Linked DNA regions of Homo sapiens. The protein of the gene in region 2 purifies or fractionates together with the protein of the main gene of each other region. This does not show direct contact. Each region holds a gene or a part of one and is shown on either strand. Other genes may lie near its edges.

The links.
Region 1: the proteins of RELT (region 2) and OXSR1 purify together in Homo sapiens (affinity purification with mass spectrometry; 4 studies listed by BioGRID and IntAct, with this or other methods). This does not show direct contact.
Region 3: the proteins of RELT (region 2) and STK39 purify together in Homo sapiens (affinity purification with mass spectrometry; 4 studies listed by BioGRID and IntAct, with this or other methods). This does not show direct contact.
Region 4: the proteins of RELT (region 2) and ACOT7 purify together in Homo sapiens (affinity purification with mass spectrometry; 3 studies listed by BioGRID and IntAct, with this or other methods). This does not show direct contact.

What each region holds. Positions count from the first base shown.
Region 1 is NC_000003.12:38,161,579-38,168,553, reverse strand, and holds the start of OXSR1 (serine/threonine-protein kinase OSR1), read right to left. Parts: upstream 3,018-6,975; 5' UTR 2,678-3,017; coding exon 2,608-2,677; intron 1-2,607. UniProt on the Homo sapiens protein: Effector serine/threonine-protein kinase component of the WNK-SPAK/OSR1 kinase cascade, which is involved in various processes, such as ion transport, response to hypertonic stress and blood pressure.
Region 2 is NC_000011.10:73,372,084-73,379,426, reverse strand, and holds the start of RELT (tumor necrosis factor receptor superfamily member 19L isoform 1 precursor), read right to left. Parts: upstream 3,029-7,343; 5' UTR 2,928-3,028; intron 2,760-2,927; exon of another isoform or gene 2,558-2,759; intron 1-2,557. UniProt on the Homo sapiens protein: May play a role in apoptosis. Induces activation of MAPK14/p38 and MAPK8/JNK MAPK cascades, when overexpressed. Involved in dental enamel formation.
Region 3 is NC_000002.12:167,953,504-167,957,608, forward strand, and holds the end of STK39 (STE20/SPS1-related proline-alanine-rich protein kinase), read right to left. Parts: exon of another isoform or gene 2,074-4,105; intron 2,068-2,073; coding exon 1,993-2,067; 3' UTR 519-1,992; downstream 1-518. UniProt on the Homo sapiens protein: Effector serine/threonine-protein kinase component of the WNK-SPAK/OSR1 kinase cascade, which is involved in various processes, such as ion transport, response to hypertonic stress and blood pressure.
Region 4 is NC_000001.11:6,390,749-6,398,388, forward strand, and holds the start of ACOT7 (cytosolic acyl coenzyme A thioester hydrolase), read right to left. Parts: upstream 3,020-7,640; 5' UTR 2,652-3,019; coding exon 2,509-2,651; intron 1-2,508. UniProt on the Homo sapiens protein: Catalyzes the hydrolysis of acyl-CoAs into free fatty acids and coenzyme A (CoASH), regulating their respective intracellular levels.

The DNA.
Region 1 (6,975 bases), on a different chromosome or scaffold from region 2:
TTAATCAGGTAAATCTTATGGTACGTAAATTATATCTCAAAATTGTTTTTTTAAATGAAAAAATATTTATGCTAAGTGGAAGAAACCAAACATGAAAGACCACATGTTATATGATCCCATTTATATAAATGTCCAAAAAAGGCAAGTCCATAGAGACAAAAAGTAGATTTGTGGTTGTCTAAGGCTGGAGGTGGAAAAAGGGATTAACTCGTAAGAAAGCACAAGAGATCTCACGGGGATGATGGAAATATTCTAAAACTGGATTATGGTGATAGTTGTACGACACAGGGAATTTACTAAAAACCACTAAATGTTACACTTAAAATGGGTGAATTTTATATTAAATTATACCTCAGTAAAGTTGTTTTAAATCTATGAAAGATGGTCAAATCACATTGGAGTTCCTAACCTTTTAAAAACCATGGACCACTTTGTGAATGTGAGGAACACTAACCCTATCCAGAAGACTGAGAGACTCCCTTTTGCCCACTCACAGACATCCTATGGGTCTGAGGACACCAAATTAACAAATCACGAAATCTCTAGCGCCTTTGCAACTCTGAAATTCTCTGCCACCTTAACAGCAAAGGCTTTGAGAATGACTACAACCATCCTCTTCACCCTAGAAAGATGGATACACTACCAGAAAAAAAAAAAAAAAACTCTTCTTTTAAAATGATGATAGGGAACCTCCTCTTTACTTCTCTGACATCATTTTGGAATCTTCCATTTAATCCTTTCCTTCAATATGAAACTCTGACTGGGGGAACCAGAAGCAATCAGTCCAGACCGGGAACTAGCTGTCTTTAGAACCAACGAATACATGTCAAAGACCCAATATGTAGCAAGGACACAGGCCCATGAAGTGGCTTAAGCAAAGATGTGATGTCTTTATTTAGTCCGAGTTGTTTTGTTTTGTTTTTGTTTTTCCTATACGAACCAATATTGCTTTAAGCCCAGATTGTCTTAAAACAAGAGGCAAGTAAAAACAAAAATTATTTCACGAAGTTCTTTTTAAACCCACAGTGAAATAAACACTGACACCCCCAAGGCAGCTAGGAAGTCTTCAGTTGGTCTTTGTTATAAAACTAATTTTAGGGCAGGATGCTGGCAAAGCAGATAATTCGCCTTCCTCCAATACACAGGTGTCTGCTCATGTCCGTTGGATTGAGCCTGTATAGCTAAACATTTTGATTTCCAAGGTCACTGGGTTATTGTTGTCCAACAAATACTCCCCTCATCCCCAGTCCCCAGCCTCCTCCCAATCCCTAGGCTTCTGTGAGAATTACAATCTATGTGCAAGTTTTGGTCTCTGCCAACTGGTATTCCTGGACCCCCTTCAAATCTTTTCACACACCAGCCCAATTTATCGGATCACGTCAAGGCACTATTTGAGGGCCTCCAGTGATACTTAAAATTCCAAAATCTGTACCAAAGCTGAGAAGATCCCTAAGATCTGGCTCCTCCCTTCCCTCTCTATCCTTGCCAGCCTTCCTTCAGGTCCTAAAACAAATCAAGCTCTTCCCTTACTCAAGGCCACTGCATCTCTATATCCCTCTGTAAGGAAAAATCTTCCCGAGGCTCTTAATCCTCACTTCTCATGCTTCAGGGCTCAACTGAAATGTTATCGCCTCAGAAAAAGAATTTTCCTTGAAATCACCCTAAGTAGATCTCCAGGTTATTCTCTATCAGAACATCTTGTTTATCTCCTTCATGGCACTTGCCAAAGCCTCTTCAAATTTTTTTTTTTTTTTTTTTTTTTTTGAGTCAGAGTCAGGGTTTGTCGCCCAGGCTGGAGTGCAGTGGCGCGATCTCAGCTCACTGCAAGCTCCGCCTCCCGGGTTCAAGGATTCTTCTGCCTCAGCCTCCCGAGTAGCTGGGATTACAGGCGCGCACCACCACACCCAACTAATTTTTGTATTTTTAGTAGAGACGGGGTTTCACCATATTGGCCAGGCTGGTCTCGAACCCCCGACCTCGTGATCCGCCCGCCTCGGCCTCCCAAAGTGGTGGGATTACAGGCGTGAGCCACCACGCCCAGCCCTTCTTACTTCTTTTTGTCTTCTTATTTAATGTCTACCTCCCCGACTGGAAAGTCAGTTGGAAGGAGTCGTAAGTTGGGTCTCGGTTGCTCAGCGCGGTTCCTGCAGCTTCACCTGGAGGATCCCCAGTTCGCCCCAGCACGGATGGAGGAAAAACTTAAAGCTCCCTATCTATCCCACAATCCCAGAAATCGATGGCTGTGCCCACTTCAAGATCCCATTTCTCACACAGCCTCGGAAAGGCCTGTCCCACACCTGCACTTTCTTTCTCTACAAGACACATGGGCCGCTCCTGTCCACACATTTGAGAATCCTGTACACAAATCTCTCCTGAGCCCCCTCAAGCCTCACCCCACCCCACGCCACCTCACAGGCGCGCGCCTCAAAACCCCCTTCCCGTCTCACACGCGCTCCTCGACACAAGCGTCCTACAAGCCCCCAGCCCCACAAGCGCCCCACGAATTCCTATGAGGGCTGCGCTCCCCGAGCTCCCGCGGCTCCCCACGTTCCCGTGTCCCCCGCCTCCCAGCGCCGCGCCTCCCCCCTCCGCAGCGCCTGCTCTCACCGATCACCTCCTGCAGCTCGTAATCGTCCCTGTTGATGGACCAGGGCAGGGCGCTCGAGTCCTCGGACATGACGGCGGCAGCGGCTCGCGGTCCTCCCTCAAACTCGCTGACCTCGCTCGTCTCCTCGCCGCGCGTCTCCCCACCCCCAACAGCCGCCGCCGCCGCCGCCGCGCCCCCACCAATCGTCTCGGAACAGCCACGGGTCGGACGGCGCCGGGGCGCGGGGTCACCGCGCGGCAGAGCAGCGGGGGCTCAGAGCTCCGGCGGACCTCGCCTCCTGCTCCTCCGAGTCCGGCACTGCCCGGCCCAGCCCACGTCCTGTCCTCGGCCTCCGCAGCAGCAGCGACAGAAGCTTTGCCTGGGCCCAGCCCCTCTGTCCCGCCCTCCACCCCAGCCCCACGCACGGGCCAAACTTTCCCCTCTTCCTCCACCTGCCGACACGCAGCGCGCTGACGTCACTGCGCTGGTCACGCCCCACCTCGGGCCCGCCTCCGGCCGCCATCTCCAGTGTGGCTGGATGTAAAGTGAGCAAGCTAGAAACCCGAGAAGGTAGGAGTTCGCGGTGAAAGGGAAGAAGTGCTTAGGTAGAGGTTCATCGAAGGCATCGAAAAGCCGTAGGAGAGCCTCAAGTAGCACAGAGGCAGTAGCCACACTAAGCATGGCGACCAAAGGGCAGCAAAGTAGAAGGGGCAGAGCCACTTCTAGCGCCTGGGGCACGCTGCTGTCTCCGTCGTCGCATTCATTGGTTTGTTTGAGAAGGAATCAGAAAAGCAATGGGTGTGGGTAGACGTCAGTCATAAATTGGTCCCGCCTCCAGGCTCTTAGCGCGCTTCTCCGTGTTAGGGCTGCAGCCCTTCAAGAGCTCCGTTACCGCGCTCGTCTTACCACTTCCTCTGGAGTGACGTCACGGCGTAACCGTCACACCCTCGAGACGTGCGAAAGGCTCTACAGGGTGTGGAGAAACCCTGAGGGAGCGGCTGGGTGGGGTAGCCTTTGGGTGTGGACCACTGCCAACTAGGATAAAAGGCCTTGGGCCACTGGTCGGAGTGAAACTGGAAGTTTGCCTGGTGACATTTTTTTCAAGGCGGACGTTCTCTCTAACGCTTGTCGCGGCGCTGTCTCTCGCGGGTCCACCCTGCACTGGGCGGGTTCTGTCCATTCGCAGCTTTAGATCTGAAGCTCAAATAAGCACCTGCCTTGAGGGACTCGGGAGGTTGTCTTTCTTCCCCCCGGACAGGGCTTGGGGTATTAAACAAGTGAGATCGACCCACGGATTTGGGGGTTGTCTCACGGGCGTTGGCTTTTGTCGCCCCCACTGAACAGTTTTCTCAGTTTGACTACGTACGGCCGTTAGAGAAATTAGCGAGCTGAAGACTGAACACGCTTGGTAAATTGGATTTTAAAAAATAATGAGCATCCAACAGGGATAGGGCTAGGTGCGAAACTGTTCTAGGTTGGACACCTTTCAGTCCAACGGCAGTCTTTAAGGAAGAGACCTTAGGCCGGGTGCGGTGGCTCACGCCTGTAATCCCAACACTTTGGGAGGCGGAGGCGGGCGGACCACCTGAGGTCAGGAGTTCGAGACCATCCTGACCAACATGGTGAAACTCCCTCTCTACTAAAATACAGAAAAATCGCTGGGCGTGGTGGCTGGCGCCTGTAATCCCAGCTACTAGGGAGGCTGAAGCAGGAGGCGAAGGTTGCAGTGACCCGAGAGCATGCCACTGCACTCCAGTCTGGGCAACAGACGGAGACACCGTCTCAGAAAAAGGAAGAGACCTTCACCTAGGCCCAGCTGAGACGGAGCAGGGACCCCTTTTAGGGCCTGCAGGCCCTCAACCATGGAAATAAAGGAAAATCTTGAGTTACTTCAAGAGAAATTCCCGGCACTTAGCTAGCCTTGAAAAGTTAATGAACCCCTTGATAAGCAAGAGGGCAGTAATAACTTTAAACATTAGCCAAAGAAACTAAAATAACTGGATGTTTGGTTCCCTATAAAAACTAAAGATAACATCAACACATGTCCCTGAGTTGTTTTTTAGAAACCCAGACCCCCACCAAATGGATCTGCTGGCACATAGACCTCAGAGAATGGGGAGCTAAGGACTGAACTCTGACTGGTGGTTTGTTTTTTCTCTAAGTTTCTTCTTCCTGAAGAAGGTCATGCCCACAAGCTGTAGCTAACATTCTTTTCTACTGATCCGAAATTTTTAGACAAAGCTTCACCTCTTTTATCAATCGCAAATCAGAAAATCTTTGAATCCACCTATGACCTGTGGGCTCCTGCTTGGAGATGTCCCCCCTTTTTAGGTCAAACCAATGTATAACCTCTGTGTATTGATTTATGACTTTACCTGTAACTTCTTCTTTTCCGAAATTACCCCTATCTTTAAGAATGCTTGGCTGGGCGCGGTGGCTCACGCCAGGAAGTTTAGGTCCCCAGTATGTATTTCATAAGTTTATGAAATATGTATTATATATAATGTATATTTATATATATATTAAGCTTGAGCTACACTAATTCTCCCCTCTTGCTAGGCGCCCTGCCTTTCTACTGCAGCAAAACCTCCGTGTGGCAATCTAATGTCACTGCACTGGGCAAGTAGACCTTAGTTTGGTTCTAAAACACCGCCAAGCACTGGAAGCTCTGCGCTGAGCTCTGCTGTGGGAGGTCCAACTGACCATGAAACCAGTCAACTAGAAGCTACTAGCGGGTTTCCACCTAGTTGGTTGGATTGGAGAACGTTTCATGAAGAAGGTAGCATTTGTACCAGATCTTGCAAAGTTAACATGATTTCAACAGGTGCACATTTAGAGGATAGAATAGTCCAGGCTCAGCAAAGGTGCCGCAGTTCCAGAAAGCATAGCACAGGCCTTGCTGTAAGTGGTTTTCAGCCATTACTACTGACAGTTTCTTTACCATATGTTCTGCCTTTTTCTTTTTGCAGGGAGGAGAGGGATGGGGATCAAATGTATCAGAAAGGAGCTAAATCTGATGGTAAGAATTAGCCTCAAGGTTTGTACCAATAGAAAGGTCTACAAACCAGAAATTCTTGGCTTGGGGTTGTTGAGTTGTATGACCCATGGACATACTTCAGTTTTGTTTTTGTTTTGTTTTGTTTTATTTTGTTTTGTTTTTTTCTCCCTGGCACGGTGACTCAAACCTGCAATCCCAGCATTTTGGGAGGCCCAGGCAGGTGGATCACCTGAGGTCAGGAGTTCGAGACCAGCCTGGCCAACAGGGTAAAATCCCATCTCTACTAAAAATACAAAAATTAGCCACGCGTGGTGGCTGGCGCCTGTAATCCCAGCTACTCAGGAGGTTGAGGCAGGAGAATCGCTTGAACCCAGGAGGCAGAGGTTGTAGTGAGCCAAGATCATGCCACTGCACTCCAGCCTTAGCGACAGAGAGTGAGACTCCATCTCAAAAAAGAAAAAAAGAAATTATATATGTATTATATATGAAATATAGACAATATGTATGAAGTATATATACTATATATAAATATATATGAAATATGAAATATATAACATATATGAAACAACATGAAATCTATAATATATATGAAATATATAACATGAAATCTATAATATATATGAAATCTATAATATATATGAAATCTATAATATATGAAATATATAATATATATGAAATATATAATATATGAAATCTATAATATATGAAATATATAATATATATGAAATCTATAATATATGAAATATATAATATATATGAAATCTATAATATATGAAATATATAATATATATGAAATCTATAATATATGAAATATACATAATATATGAAATATATTATGTATATGAAATATACATAATATATGAAATATGTATATGAAATATACATAATATATGAAATATGTATATGAAATTACATAATATATGAAATATGTATATGAAATATACATAATATATGAAATATGTATATGAAATATACATAATATATGAAATATGTATATGAAATATACATAATATATGAAATATGTATATGAAATATACATAATATATGACATATGTATATGAAATATACATAATATATGACATATGTATATGAAATATACATAATATATGACATATGTATATGAAATATACATAATATATGACATATGTATATGAAATATACATAATATATGACATATGTATATGAAATATACATAATATATGACATATGTATATGAAATATACATAATATATGACATATGTATATGAAATATACATAATATATGACATATGTATATGAAATATACATAATATATGACATGTATATGAAATATACATAATATATGACATATGTATATGAAATATACATAATATATGACATATGTATATGAAATATACATAATATATGACAT
Region 2 (7,343 bases):
GCTATCACACCAGTCCCAACTGTGGTCACAAGTGGAAACCCAGCCTGGCCCCACTGTCATCCCCAGAGGCCCAAGTTCCCAGAAAGGTTTGGCTTGGCCAGGGCACAGGCTGAGGCTGGGGGCCTCCTTTAAGGCTGGGATAAGGAGAAGTTAACCCTTCTCCTCTTGCTCCCCCTCCCAGGCCCTAAGCTATTTCCACCTCTTTGTTGAGGATGGAAATAACTCCGGCTCAGCCCCTAGAGACCACGACAGCTATTTTCATCAGCCCCAAGAAGCACAGCTCCAGTCATTGCAGAGAGGACCGAGGGACACCCTGATCCCCAGTTCCAGTTCTTGGCCAAGTGGCAACAGTGGTCAGAGCCAAAAGGGGTCTCTGGGAAGAACAGGGAGACCGAGGCCCAGAGAGAGTAGGGACCAGCTCAAGGTCACTCCCTGTCTGCTCCCCACCATAACATGCAGGTGGATTTGGGGAAATGCCTCTAGAGCAACTGCAAAGGGGAGGGGGCCTCTCAAGTATGATGAAGGTCACCTGGGACTCTCAATTTTCCCTGCTACCCCTAGGCTGTGCTGCTAACTCCATACACTCTTCAAAGCCATGGGGACACCCCCAAAGCCAGGTCCAGGCTCTAGAAGGCAGGGGACAGGACTTTCTGGTGATGTCTGGTTGGGAGTGAAGTCTGGGGAGGAACAGGAAGACCATGTAACCCACCCATCCCCAGTGTTCCAGACATGTGTGCACACACACACATCATACTTAGAACTCACAATGTAATGCCCTGGCTAGGCCACGCCTACTAGCCCAAGTTTGAGAGACAGAAGTCCAGGAAAGCCATGAGCAGTTATTAGGAAGGTGGGTGATCCTCTCTCCCAGCATCTCACTGGTCTCTGGGGTCAGAAGACCTGAATTCCAGTCCTGGCACTGTCCTGACTCTGTATGACCTTGGCCAAGTCACTTTGCTTCTCTGATCCTCAGTTCCTTTCTCTGAAACACAGTCACTACATCTCAGAATCACTGCGAAGATTCAACAAGACAGAACACCATGAAGTGTTCAGAACAGTGCCTGACACTGTCCCCCACCCTGTCCCCCACCCCTAGAATGTAATCAGCATTTTCAGAGGACGACAGCAGAAGACAGAACTTCCAGATTCTACAGCAAGTGCCACCCTCTCCTAGACTAGGGAGCTCAGCTTCCACCCCACCCTGCATGAACCCCACAGACCTTCATACGGGAGAAGGGGCCTCAGAAGGGTCTTGCCCAGATGGCGAAAGGGTACCGCTCCAGCTCTCCAGCAAGAACTTAGCCTCCCAGACCAGAGACCACTCCTGGGGAACAAGTCTCTCCCCACTCTCCCCCAACCCAAGGAACTGAAGAAAGGACACCCAGGCAGAGAAGTGAATGTCTATGGATTTGGGGATCCATATTGTCTATGGATCCATTTCGTGACAGAGGACCAGGAAGCCTTTGGGTGGGAGGCTAACGTTTCCTTGACCAGTTTTGGAGAAGGCTGTGCTTCCAACCCTATCAGTAGCCCCTGAGTGCAGCCCCTGGGCCGCTGTGTCCCCAGGAGAAGCCTGCCCCCACCCCCCACTGCAGTCTTTCTGCCTGAAGGGAAGGGAGAACACAGGCAGTTGACCCAAAACAATAGAGGATCCCAAAGTGATGATTCACAGTCCATTCAAAGCCCAGCACCTCAGTGTGCAGATGGGGAGACTGAGGCCTGCGCGGGGGAGGGGGGCGGGGGGGTCTGAGAACAAGATTGTGTCCGGGTCCGCTGAGAATACAGATTACACAGGGGCAGAACTTTGCCAGGTGTAGGGACTTCGATGCGTGAGTGTGTGGATGCAGGTGGGCGGGGGGAAGCTGAGACTACCACAGGGCCCCTACCCTGCTGCCATCTGGGCCACCCCACCAGATGTTGCCCAGCCTCGGCTTTCTCCCTCAGCCAGGGCCTATCCCTCAGGGTCCATCTCCTCACCAAGCTGAACTCCTGAGGGGTGCCCTCGTGGGGACAGTCCTGGAGACCCTTGTCTCCTGGCTCCCCAACTTCCTCATCGCCCCACATCTGCCGGAAGGTGTCCTAGGTCCGGTCCCTCCTCCTCCTGCCTCTTACTCATCATCACCCTAGGCGCAGACACACACACACACACACACACACTGACACCACTTGACCCCACACGCACACCATGGCGCCAGCGAGCTCGGCTCGTTCTCAGTCACTTGGGCTCCTCTCCCTCTATTTCACACTCACAGTAACGGGTGGCCCTGGCCCTGCGCCGGTCACGCCCCAAGCCACGCACTTCGTGACCCCAGTGACCCCGGGTCTTTCCCTCACACAACACACGCACACACGCTGCCTGTCTCCCACACACAGAGCCCCTCTGTGTCGCCCGCTCGGCCCGGCGTCACCGCCCAGTGTCCCAGCCACACGTTCGCCCGGCCAGGCCGCCTCACGCGCCGTGTCACCCACAGTCACGGGCTGACACCATCCAGACCCCCCCTTGGCCGCCCCGCGCCGCAGCCGCGCCGAGGCGCCGCCGTCCAGCCCGCACCACAACCTGGTCTCGGTCCAAGTTTCCCGGGCCGGGGACCGCTCCGGGCCCCGCCGGCCCCTCACACCGCAAGTTCCGCTGCTTCCCCGCGCGCCCCCCGACAGCCACCACGCAGGGCCGGCCCGGAGTCGCGGCCGGAGGACCTGCAGGTCACGGGGCTCGGAGACTGGCGGTGGCCGGTGCGCGGAAGGCGCCGGGACAGGACGCGAGGCGGGAGGAGTGGGGTGGGGGGGCGCGCGGCCGGGCTGCCGCATCCGCCGAGCCCGCGAACTTCCTCAGAGACACGGGGAGGCAGGGGGCGCCACTAGGGTCCGTATCCCGCTGGCCCGGCCGCGGAGAGCAGACTCTGGATGGGCGCTCCGCGCGCCCTCCTTACCTGGCTGCGCCGCGGCAGCTCCAGCTCGGCTCCCCGTTCGACTCGGCGCCGCGGCCCGGCTCGGCGAGCGCCCGGACAGCCGCGCAGCCTGCGCGCCTTTTGAATGAATCGCCGGCTGGGCCGGGAAGGTGCGCAGACCCGCCCCCGCGCGTCACGGCCGCTCCGCCCCCGACGTCAGAGCGCGGTCTGCGCCCCGCGCCCGACTCACCCCGAGCCGCGGAGGGGCTCGCCGCTCTGCCGCTGGGCGGTGCTGCTCTACGTCGCCCTCTCTCGCGCCCCTGGGAACTGCAGGGGGCTGCGCGGGACTGGGCGGCGGTGCCCAGAGGGCCTCTTGTATCCGCCTCTTCAAGGCTCTGAACCAAGCAAGGAGTTGTGCGAAGCAAGATAAAGAGACTGGAGACTGAGATACTCCTCTGGGTCCTCTCAGCATTGCCAGTGTAACTAGAGCCACCTCTGCCCCTTTCTGGGCTTCATCTTCCTCCTGCCAGTTGGTGGCCAGGAAGAATAACCTCACTTTGCTTTGTTGACGAGGCCCAGGCCCAACCCTGGAAACCCTCACCTAGTTGGCGAAAAGGCCTGGTGAAGGTGAGTCTATAAAGGAAGCCCACACGGTGGGCTTCGGCACATCCTTCAAGGCCTAGTGAAATCCTCCAGGAGGCGTCTCCTGCCTCCACTCCCCTACTCCCCGCACCACTTCTCTGTGCCAGGGTAGTTAGTTTCCCTCCAGCAGGACAGGTGACTCAGTGCCCCCCTCCCTACTACAGCCATCCCACCCTGCCAGTTTCCAATGCCAGTCATCACAAACTCCAGGCAGTATTCACACTGTATTCCGACTCCGAATCGTGTCCCCTGGAGTTGTGCTACAGGGTGTGCCAGGACTGGAGGGAGCAGCTCAGTGGCCCGTTCCCCCTCTCAGTACTATTCAGGGGATCTCAGGCGGTCCTCCTGGGACAGTAGGGCTGATGGGAGACTGAGACACCAGGGAGGACCTAGTGCTGGGCCAGAGGCCTGGCTGGGGTCAGGATAATCACAGCCCATGACAGAGATGGAGAAAGGAAGGTAAATAAGTCAGCTGGGGATAGATGGCTGGGGGTGGGGTTCTAAACAGTCATAGAATCTGAACCCAGGGGCTAGGAGACGGAAAAGGTCAGGTCCCCAGGGTCCAGGAGATTCCAGGAGGCGAACTGGACACCGCATGGGGAGGGGAGCAGGGGATGAGTTTTCATTTCCCTGGGTCATGCTCAGGTTGTGGGGGAAGGGCATAAGGAGCTACAGGTCATTGATGTCAGGATCATGACATCAGCACCCTCATATGTCAATGGAGACCTCCAGGGCTGGGGCAGGGGTTCTTCCAGGGTCCCACATCCCAGCCTACGGAAGGCCAGAGCATCCAGAATGCCTCCACTCCTGGAAATGTTTTCTTTGTAAGGGGACCATCTACACCCCAGCTCTAGGTTCTAGAGTTCAAATGGTGGCAATTTCAGGTGTCGTCACTCAATAAACCAAATGGGGAAGGCCAGGTGTAGTGGTCACACCTGTAATCCTAGCACCTTGGGAGGCTGAGTTGGGAGGATCACTTAGCCCAGGAGTTCGAGACCAGCCTGGGCAACATGATGAAGCCCAGTCTCTACAAAAATATGTGGGAGAATCACTTGAGCCCAGGAAGTTGAGACTGCAGTGAGCCGCGATCGTGCCACTGCACTCCAGCCTAGGTGAGAGAGTGAGACCTTGTCTCAATCAATAAACTAAATGGGGAAATGCTTTTTGGAGCACTGGCTATTAATCAGACATCCCAGAGAGGGTCCAGGCCCCTCTCTACCACCAGCTCTCTGTGAGGTTTTCATCAAATCCACCCCCAACTCAGTTTCCTCATCTGAAAACTGGGGTGCCAGACATGTTGCCTGAAGTTCTCTGTGGGAGGCGGCTACCTGGCTGCCCTGGCAGCAGCTCCATAGAGTAGGTCTCCTGGGGCCACAGCCCAAACACTTCTCGCTCCTGCAACCCCCAGGTTAGGAGGGAGCCTAATTATTATTTACTGCTGGGTGGATGCGCCAGCTCCTCCTGCAGCCAGCTCTGACCCTGAAACCACTGTGACGTGGGCTCCTCCCTGAGAGTCTACCAGCATCTGGGTTGCTCCACAGTGAGTAGACAGGGAAGGAGTTGTGGAAGCCACAGGAAAGATTTAGACTCGCTTTTTATGGAGCTTGGGGAACCACAGGCTTGAGAACAAAGGACTCTCAGAATCACAGGCTTTATAAAATCCTGGCATCTCAACTGAACCCATGGAGTCAGCACTGGAATCCCTGAGCTCAGGGACCTCAGAGACCATCTTGTTGAACTTCACATGGTACAGCTGGGCAAGTGGGCCCAGAGAATGTGTGCACCTCATTGTAGGTACACAGCACAAGGTCCCAGTAAACTGGGACGAGCTGTGATGGGGACCTGGAGGCAGGGGTACAGGTGCCATGCCCCAGCCAGGCCCTGCCTGGGGTGGGGATCCTGGGTCACAGAATCAGAGCCACCACAGTGTGGCTGTATGCAGGGGTCTGAGTAGATGACTGCCTTGGAGTCATGGACCAAAGGTAGTGGGTGCCACTCTGCTTGCTGGCTGTGCTAGAATTCCAAAAGGAAGTACATACAGTACAAGCCTGGAGGAACAGCAGGCTCATACTTAAATTTCAATGCTCCAGGCCAGGCGCGGTGGCTCACGCCTGTAATCCCAGCACTTTGAGAGGCCGAGGTGGGCGGATCACCTGAGGTCAGGAGTTGTAAACCAGCCTGGCCAACATGGTGAAACCCCATCTCTACTAAAAATACAAAGAAAAAAAAATTAGCCAGGTGCGGTGGTGGGCGCCTATAATCCTACCTATTTGGGAGGCTGAGGCAGGAGAACTGCTTGAACCCGGGAGGTGGAGGTTGCAGTGAGCCAAGATTGTGCCATCGCACTCCAGTCTGGGCTACAGAGCGAGACTGCGTCTCAAAAAAAAAAAAATAAAATTCAATGCTCCATCCTAGGCTAACCCCCAGCGGGCCAAGTCCTAACCCTAAGAAGGTGGGCTGCTGTCCTGTGTTTGTGTCTTAGCTCCAGGGGAGGGTGGGCTCAGTCTGAGGGGAAACTGAGGCTAGGAGGCCAGGATAGGGCTCAGCCTGGGGCCAGGCCAGAAGCTGAGCTGGGGCTGTCTGGGTCTGAGGACCAGGTTCAACCTGCATTTAGGTCCAGACCCTGGCCTGGGTCTGGAATCCCACTGGGGTGGAGGTGTCAAGTCTTTGGTGACTGCCTCACTGGCTCCCTCATGGGAGGCCCAGCACTCTCAGTTCCATCCATCCCAGGTTCTATTGCCCACCTGACTGGTGCTCAGGGAGGCAAGTGTAGGGTTTTCTTGTTCCCATGGTGAGTCTGAGAGAGGAACCCAGAGCCATGAACTGCAGACAATGGGGCTGGTGGGGACCCTGGGGACTGTCAGGGTGAGACTTGCAGTCCAGTTACCCTCTGGGCCCAGAACATGAGCAGGTCAAGAGCTAGGGAGTGTGAGCCAAGCCCAGGGAGGCAGGTGGCTTGCTGAAGCATCTGAGATTAAGGAGCCTGGAGAAGAGAAATCTAGGGGAAAATGGAAGAATATATGCTTTGGTGTCACATGGATAGTGGTTAAGTCCCACTTCTGCCATTGCCAGGCTGTGTGACCTTAGGCAAGTGACTTCACCTCTCTGAGAACTCGCCCATCCAAGCGTGTTATGAGGATCTGCTGAGACCTCATATCGGGGGCACCAGCTTCTTCCAGGACGCTGGGCTCAGGAGCTCTCTCTCCTCTCCCTTCCCTTGGTGCACTGTTTGCCCTGGGCAGCAGGGGCTCTGCCCGATTTATCCCTGATGCCTGCTCACTATCTCCCTCCCCAGTCCAGCCCAGCAAACTACCTCTGACCCAGCTTGGGATGCCAGCTCACTTGCCTTTGCCAGGCAGGACTCCTCATTGGCTATAATTGGGCCTAAAATAGACTTCCCCTTGCCGTTTCCTGCAACCTGGCCTGTGGCTTAAGGTCTGTGAGGACACAGACTTGGTGTTTGGCAGGCATGCAGAAGATGTAAAGGGCTCACAGAGGTCATCCAGGTCTATGGAGGGACAGACACTCGCCTGGCATCACACAGTGCCGAGAGCCTGGGCTGGAGCTTGAGTTCAAGCCCTGGGGTCCCCCATGCCCTCCCCAGGCCCTGCCCAGAAGGTTTAAGGTAAGGCCTTAGCCAGACTTGCTCCCTCCAAGCCCTCTGGACCAGCCCAGTGCTGAGGCTGGTTTGAGGTGTGTGACGGGGCCCCTGGAGGCCAGCTCGTCTAGCCTTCTGCCTCCCCTGGCTTTAAGGGTCATTTCCTGGCTTTTCTGACCACAGGAAACCTTCCTGCCTGGGCTCTCCTCCCCAGCTAC
Region 3 (4,105 bases), on a different chromosome or scaffold from region 2:
CATGTTGCAAAGTCCTCCAGTTATTCATGTACATTTTATCCTCTTAGTAGAAGATAAGGGTCTTGTCTTTTCACCCACAAGTTGTACAGAAGAGTGTAAAGAACATGCTCTGAATGTCAGGAAGTGAGGATCCTGGGAGTTTAGCTCTGCAAGTAGTCCTGTAAAGGGCCTTGGACAAGTCATTCAACCACTCTGAGCCTCAGGGACTAACAGCATTAAAATGAATGAAGTGGTTGGAAGGAATCATTCTCTCTTGTCCCCTATAGCCCTATAGGGGTTTTAATTCGAAGACCATCTGTCTATATGGAGTAGAAATGTTTGCCTTTCATTCTCTCCTCATGCTAATTCAAGTTACTTGTCAAACCCAGTTCTCTGTACTGGATGCATGATGCCTCCTCACTCTGCCTCTAGGGCACTTTCACTAGTTAACTCTTACTAGGCATTTTATGAAAGTGCTAAATGCCATTGCAGTAATGCAGATGATATCTAAAGGAGGAAAGAAACAATGCAAAACAATCTCATTGTGCAATACACTTTTATTTTCCTTTTACCTTTGCAGTCATCTTCGAGTAATCGTTGTGTAAACAATAGAATGGAATGAAATTACATTAAATTGTATGCAAATGGCTCTAGAACACCTTAACAATTATGACAAGGCAATTATAAATAACTTTTTTTCCTTAGTAATATATATTTGCTTTTTGAAGTACATTAAAGAGCTGCCATATCTAGGGTTAGCTAGGAAAGAGCAATGGTACCATCCTGGGAGCCCACCTCCTTGAAAGATTAGACTCCAATTTTCAAAATCCTAAGGTTTACTAGTTCCATAATATACAGTCAAGCAGAGGGCTACTTGGGTTGAAAGTATTGATTCTTGAACCTTAACAGCGTTTTACCTTTTAGTCATTGCACAAAACCCTTCCAATTTTCACTCCACCTGGGTATTCTGCAAAATTTCAAGTAAAACTCAGATTCTGATATTTTCAAGTTTATCACCTTTAGAATAACAAATCCTATCACTTAAGGAGAGCCAAATCAGAGATGGGTATATAGTTAGCAATCTAACAGAATGGCAACATTTTACATAGCATTCTAAACGGTCCAATGAAGCAAAACTTAACATATGCCACCTTATATAGAGGAAATTTTAGATCTGAGACTATTCCAGAGTAAAGCAGCCTCAGGCACATTCTTAATGTGAAAGTTTGCAAGGCACCTCCCTCTCCCAAGAGACAGTCAGATTGTAAATTGGTTTTTAGGCAAACAGACTAAAAGAATAAGCATCCAAATTCCTAATTCAGTCATTTCAAAATTTAGAAGTTACAAATACTCCAAAGACAGACCCAAAACTTTTTGTTTAAATAACGAGATTAACTGCAAGAAGCATATAATCAAAACCCTTTTTTTCTTATAGCTAAGGTGTGTAATGCATAAATATATGAAAAATAAAATTCACAGTCAGTTTTAAAACTAGAATTCAAGTTTGGCTAATAAATCTTAATTTTATAAGTATATTAATTTCTAAATACAACATAAAAGAGGCAGTATTGTCAGATGTACAATTAAAGTATTATAACAGAAATAACAACAATGAAAGGAGAAATAGGCTTCTGGATAGAAAATTCCTTTTGTTGCCAATAAATAAGACCACCTGAGTGTATTTCAGATTCTTTTCACTTAAGGGATATCCAAATTGATTGCTAAGAATATTAAATAGCTTTTGGAAAAATGAGCAACAGTCGTGCAGCTGTGGCATTTGCTTGTTCTTGTACTGTGGATTGCTAGAGAATAAAGCAGAACTCGGAGTGTTGTAAGTTTTAAAAAATTATTTTTTTATCCCATTTTGTTGAAGCCGGCCTCTTCACAATCTTCTGATTTTGCTAGGAAATGGGAGTGAGGGGGTGGGAGGAAATGGGCAGAAAGAGGGAGGGTTGAAGGGAGTAGGGGTGGCGGTGGGGCATGACAGATCAGGGTGACATCAAGGGACATACATCAGCTGACACTCAACTGAGCAAACCCAATCAGCTTCACTTCATCAGGAATCTCCGACCCATCACAGCCAGAAGCCTGAAAAGGGAAAAAGAAAGCCTCAATGCTGGTTTGCTGCTGCTGCTGGTTGTTAAAGTCTTGTTCCTATGATGGCAGATCTAAGCAAAGGCACAGTTGGTATGGGACCATGTGTCCCATTTCTTCCAGAAGAGAGACGCCAGCCACTCTCTCGAATGACTACTGGAAGCTAAGTGCTGTCAGCACTGTGGCCATCATGCTATGAAGTACAGAACAGAGGTGGGAAGGGATTTGTTATCCATTAAAATACCATGCCCAGGCTGGAAGCTTTGGAACAGTCAGTGAAACACCCCTGCTAAGAAACCACAAACAAATTTTTCAAAAACTAAATAAAATTATTTTAAATATACTTTCTAACTAAATCACCTTAGTAATCATTCTGAGAACAACATGAAAATAAGCAGAAGAGATCTAACAGGTCACCCAGGAGTAATTTAGTTTTTACCAAACTCATTTCTTCTATGAAACTTGCCAGGAAAAAGTCATCACCAAGTACTGCGATGGGCTCATTAGAGAGAACTGCTATATAAATACCAGTGAATAAGTTTTACAGGGAAAGGTATTATAACAATTCTTTTCTATAAAAGAATTTTGTTTATATTTTCAGACATATTAATTGCCTAAAATTGGCAAAAATTATGGTGTGTCAAATACTTTATTTTTCTTACTTCAGAATCAGACAGAACTGGAAAAAAGCCATTGCCTTGGCCAGGCATGGCGGCTCACGCCTGTAATCCCAGCACTTTGGGGGGCCGAGGCAGGTGGATCATGAGGTCAGGAGATCGAGACCATCCTGGCCAACATGGTGAAACCCCGTCTCTACTAAAATACAAAAAATTAGCCAGGTTTGGTGGCACACACCTGTAGTGCCAGCTACTTGGGAGGCTGAGGGCTGAGGCAGGGGAATCACTTGAACCGGGGAGGCAGAGGTTGCAGTGAGCCGAGATCGTGCCACTGCACTCCAGCCTGGCGACAGAGCGAGACTCCACCTCAGAAAAAAAAAAAAAAGGAAGCCATTTCCCTTCAAACCTCTCACTGGTCCTAATTAATAAGTTATTTCGTTTTTCTTGTGACCTCTCCCCCTTGCTTGCTTTTAGACACACACACACACACACACACACACACACTCTCTCTCTCTCTCTCTCTCTCTCTCTCTCTCCCCCCCCGCCCCCTCAGATCCACCATTCTAAGCTGCCTCTCATCCTATAGTACATAAATCAGAATTGGACATTACATAAGAACAACAAGGAAGGGAGAAAAAAGTATGATGAATGACTGGGAATGGGCAATTAATTACCAAAGGATCATACAAACCTTTTCAGAGCCTAATTCCTGCTAAATTATTGTCACAACAATTAGTTTCCCATGGAAACGTGCCCTTTCCAATCACCACAATTAAGCTGCATAGCACTGCTTGTATACATTTAGAATATGTACTATACTGTTTTTTGAACTGTACTGTTCATAGTGTACTGTTTTTTGAACTGTTCAAAAAAACAGTACAGAAAACCAGCATCAACTCTAGCATTTTCTATTAAATAATCAGCTAACTATAATGTTTGTACCTTGAATATTTTCAAATGATTATCTTTAAAATAACATCCTATGTAAGTAGTTATGCTTATGTAAAAAAGTCACTAGCCTAAAGGATAAAAATATTAATCAGTATTTAAAGAAAGGAATTTACTTTGTACCTATCCAGTGATATCTCTGGTTTCATCTGACAGATAAAGATGTTCAGAGAAGTAAAATTGTCATTGTTTGTGTTGACAGGGGCGATGAGGTCTGAAATGCTCTTCTCCTTATCACTTTCAACAAAGTAGTACAGGCATAGAGGGCATTTTGGCTGAGGTATTTCTGGTGGTGTCACACTGACACTGTAATATTCACCTTCCCTATCCATTTTCTCCTTGTGTTATCACTGTTTCTTTATCTACCTTCCTAAATCATCCCTTCTCTCTCATGTGTAGCTCTTGTTAACATCATTTACTCAACCCACTGAATAATGGCAGACAACCTGTGTAATTAACAGGCAACT
Region 4 (7,640 bases), on a different chromosome or scaffold from region 2:
AACATGGTGAAACCCCGTCTCTACTAAAAATACAAAAATTAGCCAGACATGATGGCGGGTACCTATAATCCCAGCAACTCAGGAGGCTGAGGTGGAAGAATCGCTTGAACCCAGGAGGCAGAGGTTGCAGTGAGCTGAGATCGTGCCATTGCATTCCAGTCTGGGTGACAGAGCGAGACTGTCTCAAAAACAAACAAACAAACAAACAAAAAGCACACACTTACTGTATGGAAGTGTCTAAAGCTATACAAAAATCTAGTAACTAGGCTAGGAGCAGTGGCTCACGCCTGTAATCCCAGCACTTTGAGAGGCTGAGGCGGGAGGATCACCTGAGGTCAGGAGTTCAAGACCAGCCTGGCCAACATGATGAAACCCCATCTCTACTAAAAATACAAAAATTAGCTGGGCGTGGTGGCGCACGCCTGTAGTCCCAGCTACTCAGGAGGCTGAGGCACAAGAACTTTTTCCAGCTGGGTGCGGTGGTTCACACCTGTAATCCCAGCACTTTGGGAGGCCGAGGAGGGCAGATCACAGATCACCTGAGGTCAGGAGTTCGAGACCAGCCTGGCCAACATGGAGAAACCCCATCTCTACTAAAAACACAAAAATTAGCCAGGCGTGGTGGCGCACTCTTGTAGTCCCAGCTACTCGGGAGGCTGAGGCCCAAGAATCACTTGAGCCCAGGAGGCAGGGGTTGCAGTGAGCTGAGATCGGGCCACTGCACTCCAGCCCGGGTGACAGAGTGAGACTCTGTCTCAAAAAACAAAAAATCTAGTAACTGTTAGAAGCTGGGTGAAAAAAGACAACATGTATAAATTGGCTATTCACCACCCTGAAGAAGTAAATAAAAGGCCAGCCTTCCACGGGAAGATTTAAATCAAGGTTTCCTTTATTCAGGAGAGGGGTGGGAAGAATACTGGATCTGGAGTCAGAAGACTTGGGCAGGGGCTGTCCCTGGATCTCCTGGAGCAGGATGACCTTACACAGTTACTCAACTCCCAAAACTGCCATTTCCTCCTCCACACAGGTAAGGGTGGCACTACCGACCATCAACCTCCCAGGGAATTGGGCAAACCAAGTGGGATGAGACAGGTATAAGCTCTTTGCAAACCATGGAGCCCAAGTTTCCCAGCCAATACTCAGCAGAGCTGATTCAGGAACCTGATGCAGGCTGTCTGTCTCCAGTTATTTCCTTTTTTTTTTTTGCCCCGCTTTCCCCACCTCCAGAGTCGATGGGACCAGAACAGCCACAGAGCCAAAGTCAAAGGGGCAGGGCTCCCCCAAAGACGTTCCCCCTCTGGAAAAGTCAAAACCGACCTTGAGGTAAGGAGAGGCCCTCGACCAGGCCAGAAGATGAGACTGAGAGTCAAGAATCGCCATAGACCCAGGACTTGCTATATGCCCAGCCTTCCTGGAGATGTCAACATCTACAGGAAAGTAACTTGCTTCTATTGGACTTGGCTTGAGCCCAAGGTCAGTCTGTGATGCCCAACCCCCAAATGTGAGGAACCCACTACCAAAACAGAAAGCAGCTCTCACTCCTGGTAGTTCATCAAGCAGGATAGGACCGGTCGCAGGCCACAGAGCCTGTGTGCAGTGGCTGAAAACCTAGACTCCTTGTCCTCACTTAGCTCATGCACAAATGCCAGCCTGCTGCTTCCGATTCTGCCGAAGAGAACTGCAGAGTAACCTTCAGGCTGCCCTCCCCACCTCCTATGGGAAATGAGCTTGTTCATGATCTCCAGCCTCCAGCTTCCTCTGGGGGCCTGCATCTATCTACTCAGTACCTGGTGGAAGAAGAGGGGGTGCTCTAGAAGGACAACCCTTTGCCTCTATTGTGTAAGATGCTTTCAGGCCCAACAGACCACTGATTCCCTTTTCTTCATAGTAAACTGTTAGAGGTAGACAGTATTATCTGTTCTTCCTTTCAACACCTGCCCTCCCCCAAACCGAAGCAGTGCACTGAAGACGGTAGCTCTGCAACCTCCTCCCACAGGGGCACCCACCGAGGGGCTCGCGCGGCTCTGGGCACCTCCCCTCCACCTCTGGGGGCTTTGGTTAGCGCAGCACAACCGCCGAGGTAATGATCCCGAATCCTCGAGGAGGCTAAGCAGGACCACGGGGCTGAGGCTCCGGGATGCTCGGGCGAGGCCCGAGGCGGGGCGGCCCACGGGCGCCGGTCGCCGGGCTCTGGAGCTGTGCATTGACCTCCGCCCGCCCCGTCCCTGCCTGGCTTTCTCGCCCAAACGGCCCGTGGCGCGGCCGCCGCCCTGGAGATGCGGCCAGGAGGAGCCGGCTGGAGGCGGGCGGGGGCCGCCCGGCTTGTGCGGCATCGCGAGTCGCATCCCGGCCGGGCGGGCGTCCGGGGCGGCGGCGCGGAAGGCCGTGCGGGGAATCGGCGGGCGGGGGCGGCCTCGGCGGGTGGGGACCACAGAGCCAAGCGGGGCAGGCCTGGGGCGGTGACCGGCGCGCCTGGCCGCTGCAGGCTGCGCGCGGGCCCTCTCTTACCGGCAGATCTGGATGGCGGACGGCGTCTCGACGTCTGGGCCCGACATGCTGGGGGCTGCGGCGGCGGATGCGGCGGGCGGCTGCAGAAGGGCGCAGGTGTCTGGCAGGCCCGGCGCGGAATGAATGAGCCCGGGCCGCGCCATAAAGGGGGAGGGCAGAGGTGGAGCGATGGGGCTGGTGAGGCGGGGCCTGCGCGCCGGGGGCAATCGAACGCGGCCTCCCCGCGCCGACCCCGCCCCCGCGCCGGCCCCACCCCGAGCCCCGCCTCCCAGGCCGCCAAGGCTGCAGAGAGCTCGCGCGGGCGTACGATTCTGGCGGCGTGGGGGCCCAGGCAGCCGCCGCTTCCAGAAGGTTCGGTGGCGGTTGGGCCGCGCCGGTGCGGGGAAGGCCCGCTAGCCGCGGCAGCCGCGCCCGACCCGGTGGCAGCCCCGAGGGAAGCGTCTGGGGCGGCCTAAGTGGCGGAGCAGGGCGGACTTGGGCCCTCACTCTCCGCGCGGCGGTAAATATTTGTGCTGGGCGTTCCCGGCCGCCCGCGCCGCCGATTCGCTGCCGCGCCCAGTGCCTGGGCGGCCGGATGAGGTCAGAGCGGAAGGCGCGGCCCGGGCTCCTGGCAGTGGGGCCTGATTCCCACCCCCGCCCCCAACCCACCCCGGCACCAGTCGCCCGCATCGCGGCTCTCGCTAAGATCGGCCCTAAGAGAGAATGGAAGGCTGTTTCCTAGAAAGGAGCATTGGTGGCGGCTGCTGGGAAGACACGGGGAATGGAACGGGCCTTTGCTTCCGCAGCACAAAGCGTCACGAGGTGGGGAGGAGGAAAGGCCGGCGACTATCTACACCGCCGCCTGCAGCTTTTACTGGGAGCGCTGAGCGCCAGCCTGGAGGTGCACGTGTTGCAGTGAGGAGCCCTGAAACATGCGTGTTTTACTGCACAAGATGTGCCCTTGAATGGAGTCTAGGCCAGTCGGGGTCACCAAAAAAAATCCACCAAAAAACACCCAAGAAGGGAGAAGCGGTCACCCCCCACGTGCTGGAATGACAGCTTTTTACTTGCTAGGCAGTTGGACCTTTTCCGAATTTTCTACAATGCACATAGATTTGTACTTACATCTTTAAATTAAAACCCACGCAACTCCGGCTCCCTAGTGCAATTTGAACAACCCATTTACACTCAGCTAGGTAGCTCTGAAGGAACTGTGCCTCACCCCGGTCACCCTTGAGTTACCAGACCGTGGAGGCAGCCCACAGCATGATCTGTAGCTCCCAGAAGCAGGGGCAGTCAAAGTCAGAACTCTGTGATTTCAAGACTTTTATACTAAGAATTTTGTTTTTCTGTTTTCTTTTTTTTTTTTTTTTTTTGAGACGGAGTCTTGCTCTGTTGCCCAGGCTGGAGTGCAGTGGTGCAATCTCAGCTCACTGCAAGCTCCGCCTCCCAGGTTCACGCCATTCTCCTGCCTCAGCCTCCCAAGTAGCTGGGACTACAGGCGCCTGCCACCACGCCCGGCTAATTTTTTGTATTTTTAGTAGAGACGGGGTTTCACTGTGTTAGCCAGGATGGTCTTGATCTCCTGACCTTGTGATCTGCCCGCCTCTGCCTCCCAAAGTGGTGGGATTACAGGCGTGAGCCACCACGCCTGGCCTGTTTTCTTTTTTTGATATAGAGTCTCGTTCTGTCGCCCAGGCTGGAATGCAGTGGTGTGATAGCTCACTGTAACCTCTGCCATCCAGTTTCAAGCAATTCTCCTGCCTCAACCACACTGAGTAGCTGGGACCATAGGCATGCACCACCACGTTTGGCTTATTTTTGTATTTTTAGTACAGATGTGTCCAGAATTGGTGGGTTCTTGGTCTCACCGACTTCAAGAATGAAGCCGCGGACCCTCGTGGTGAGTGTTACAGCTCTTAAGGTGGCGCATCTGGAGTTTCTTCCTTCTGGTGGGTTCGTGGTCTCCCTGGCTCAGGAGTGAAGCTGCAGACCTTCACAGTGAATGTTAACGGCTCATAAAGGCAGTGTGGACCCAAAGAGCGAAAGAACAACACTCCTACAGCGTGGAAGGGGACCAGAGTGGGTTGCCACTGCTGGCTCGGGCAGCCTGCTTTTATTCTCTCATCTAGCCCTACCCACATCCTGCTGATTGGTAGAGCAGAGTGGTCTGTTTTGACAGGGTGCTGATTGGTGTGTTTACAATCCCTGAGCTAGACACAAAGGTTCTCCATGTCCCCACCAGATTAGCTAGATAGAGTGTCGACACAAAGGTTCTCCAAGTCCCCACCAGCGTAGTTAGATACAGAGTGTTGATTGGTGCATTCACAAACCCTGAGCTAGACACAGGGTGCTGATTGGTGTGTTTACAAACCTTGAGCTAGATACAGAGTGCCGATTGGTGTATTTACAATCCCTTAGCTAGACATAAAGGTTCTCCATGTCCCCACCAGACTCAGGAGCCCAGCTGGCTTCACCCAGTGGGTCCCGCACTGGGGCTGCAGGTGGAGCTGCCTGCTAGTCCCGCACTGTGTGCCCACACTCCTCAGCCCTTGGGTGGTCGATGGCACTGGGTGCCGTGGAGCAGGGGGCGGTGCTCATTGGGGAGGCTCGGGCCGCACAGGAGCCCATGGAGTGGGGGGAGGCTCAGGCATGGCGGGCTGCGGGTCCCGAGCCCTGCCCCGGGGGAAGGCAGCTAAGGCCCTGCGAGAAATTGAGCACAGCAGCTGCTGACCCAGGTGCTAAGCCCCTCACTGCCCGGGGCCGGCGGGGACGGCCGCGGCTCCGAGTGCGAGGCCCGCCGAGCCCACGCCCACCTGGAACTCGCCCTGGCCCGCAAGCACCGCTCGCAGCTCCGGTTCCGCCCACGACTCTCCCTCCACACCACACCGCAAGCTGAGGGAGCCGGGTCCGGCCTTGGCCAGCCCAGAAAGGGGCTCCCACAGTGCAGCGGCAGGCTGAAGGGCTCCTCAAGTGCCGCCAAAGTGGGAGCCCAGGCAGAGGAGGCGCTGAGAGCGAGCGAGAGCTGTGAGGACTGCCAGCATGCTGTCACCTCTCACAGATAGGGTTTCACCATGTTGGCCAAGCTGGTCTTGAACTCCTGACCTCAGGTGATCCACCCACCCCAGCCTCCCAAAGTGCTGGGATTACAGGCCTGAGCCACCTCGTCCGGACGCAGACTTTTGTTTTTTAGTGAGAATTAAGTTGATGCAAGCATCAAGGGCCCCCAAGCCTGTTCAAACACCACCTCTTCCCAATTGAATCCTGAAATGGTTGGAAGCAGTAACTAGATTTAGAGCCTCAGGCAAGGTAGTTTCCTTTTTTTTTTTTTTTTTTTTTTTAAATCTTTTGAGACAGAGTCTTGGCTCTGTCACCCAGGCTGGAGTACAGTGGCACAATCCCTGCTCACTGCAGCTTCTGCCTCCAGAGCTCAAGCAGCCCTCCCACCTCAGCCTCCTGAGTAGCTGGAGCCACAGGCATGTGCCACCATGCTCAGCTAATTTTTGTACTTTTCTGTATAGAAGGAGCCTCACCACATTGCCCAAGCTGGTCTTGAACTCCTGGGCTCAAGTGATCCACCTGCCTTAGCCTCTCAAAGTGCTATGATTACAGGTGTGCATCACTGTTCCCAGCCTGGCAGTTTCTTTACCTATGATATGGGGGTGATAAATACTTTCCTGACCGTTGTGAGGACTACTTGGCAGGCTGAGGTAGGGCCTTTCTTCCTCTTCCCTCCTCAAACCTTCTGTTTCTCTATACTGCTCTTCCCCCAGCTATGAGTGCAGCAAGAATTTACTAAGACCCCATGCTCCCTGTATAGGTGTGCTTGCTCCTCTGAGCATTACAGACACTTCATTGTTCAAAATCTTCTAAATCTGCCTGGCATGGGGGCTTGCACCCATAATCCCAGGAGGCTGAGGCAAGAGGATCCCCTGAACCTAGGAGTTTGAGGCTGCAGTGCCCTCTGATGGCTCCTGTAAACAGCCACTGCACTCCAGCCTGGGCAACATAGACTCTGTCTCTTAAAAAAAAAAAAAGTTCAAATGCTGCTTGGGACACAAATCAGGGACACAAAAAGCCAGATTCCAGCCACACACTGAACCAGAGGGAATCTTAGACAAGGATGGGCCAAGTGGTTTAGAATGAAATAGCCTGGGCCCTCCAGAGTGAGGCCAAAAAGTGATCTGGAACAGTTCCTATACTTTTGGGAAAGGGTGTGGCTACCCTTCCACCTGAGACAGCATCTGTCCCTCCTGCTCACATCACTACCCCGAAGGTGGTAGAGGGACCCAGAAAAGATAACAGCTCAGCCCAGAGATTATCATGTACCCATTCTGCACTGTAGAAAGAAAATAGTGCTCCAGATTACTACTTATGATGTTGCCCTGTTTTTAAGGATGGCAATGGGGGCGCCCAATTCCTCAGCAAAAACCTTGTGAATGATTTTGGCCATAGTGCTAATGGATTTACACTGATTTTGCACCTTCCACAGTCTCACCTTCTCGTGTTAGGCTATTTTCTACTTGCTCCTCAAGCTATGGGCCATTTCTATCCCTGCTTTCAGCAAAACATCTCAAAAGAGCTGCTTACACACACACCCTCTCCCCTCACCTCCCATCCTCCTTTGAACCTGTTCCAGTTTGGTTTTTGATTCTACCAGTCAATCTATCAAGGTCACTAATTCCTTCCAAGTTGCTAAATCCGATAATCTGTTGTCAGAAGTCATTTTCCTTGACCTCTCAACGGCATTGAGCAGATGTGACCTCCCTATCCTGGAAGCGCTCCTCCCTCACGTCCGTCTTCCTCCCTCGCTGGCCACTGCTCAGCCTGCTCTGCTGGCACTGCCTCCCTGCCTCCTGTCAGAACTTTAGACAAGCCCCAAGCAGTGCTTGAACTCTTGAGGTCTCATTCTGTCTCATCACTTTTTTTTTTTTTTCCTTCAGACAGGGTTTCATTCTGTCACCCAGGCTGGAGCACAGTGGTGCAATCACAACTCACTGCAGCCTCGACCTCCTGGGCTCACATGATCCTCCCACATCAGCCTCCTGAGTAGCTGAGACCACAGGCACACACCACCATGCCCGGCTATTTTTTGTATTTCTTTATAGAGTCTGGTCAGGCTGGTCTCGAACTCCTGGGCTCAAGCGATCCAC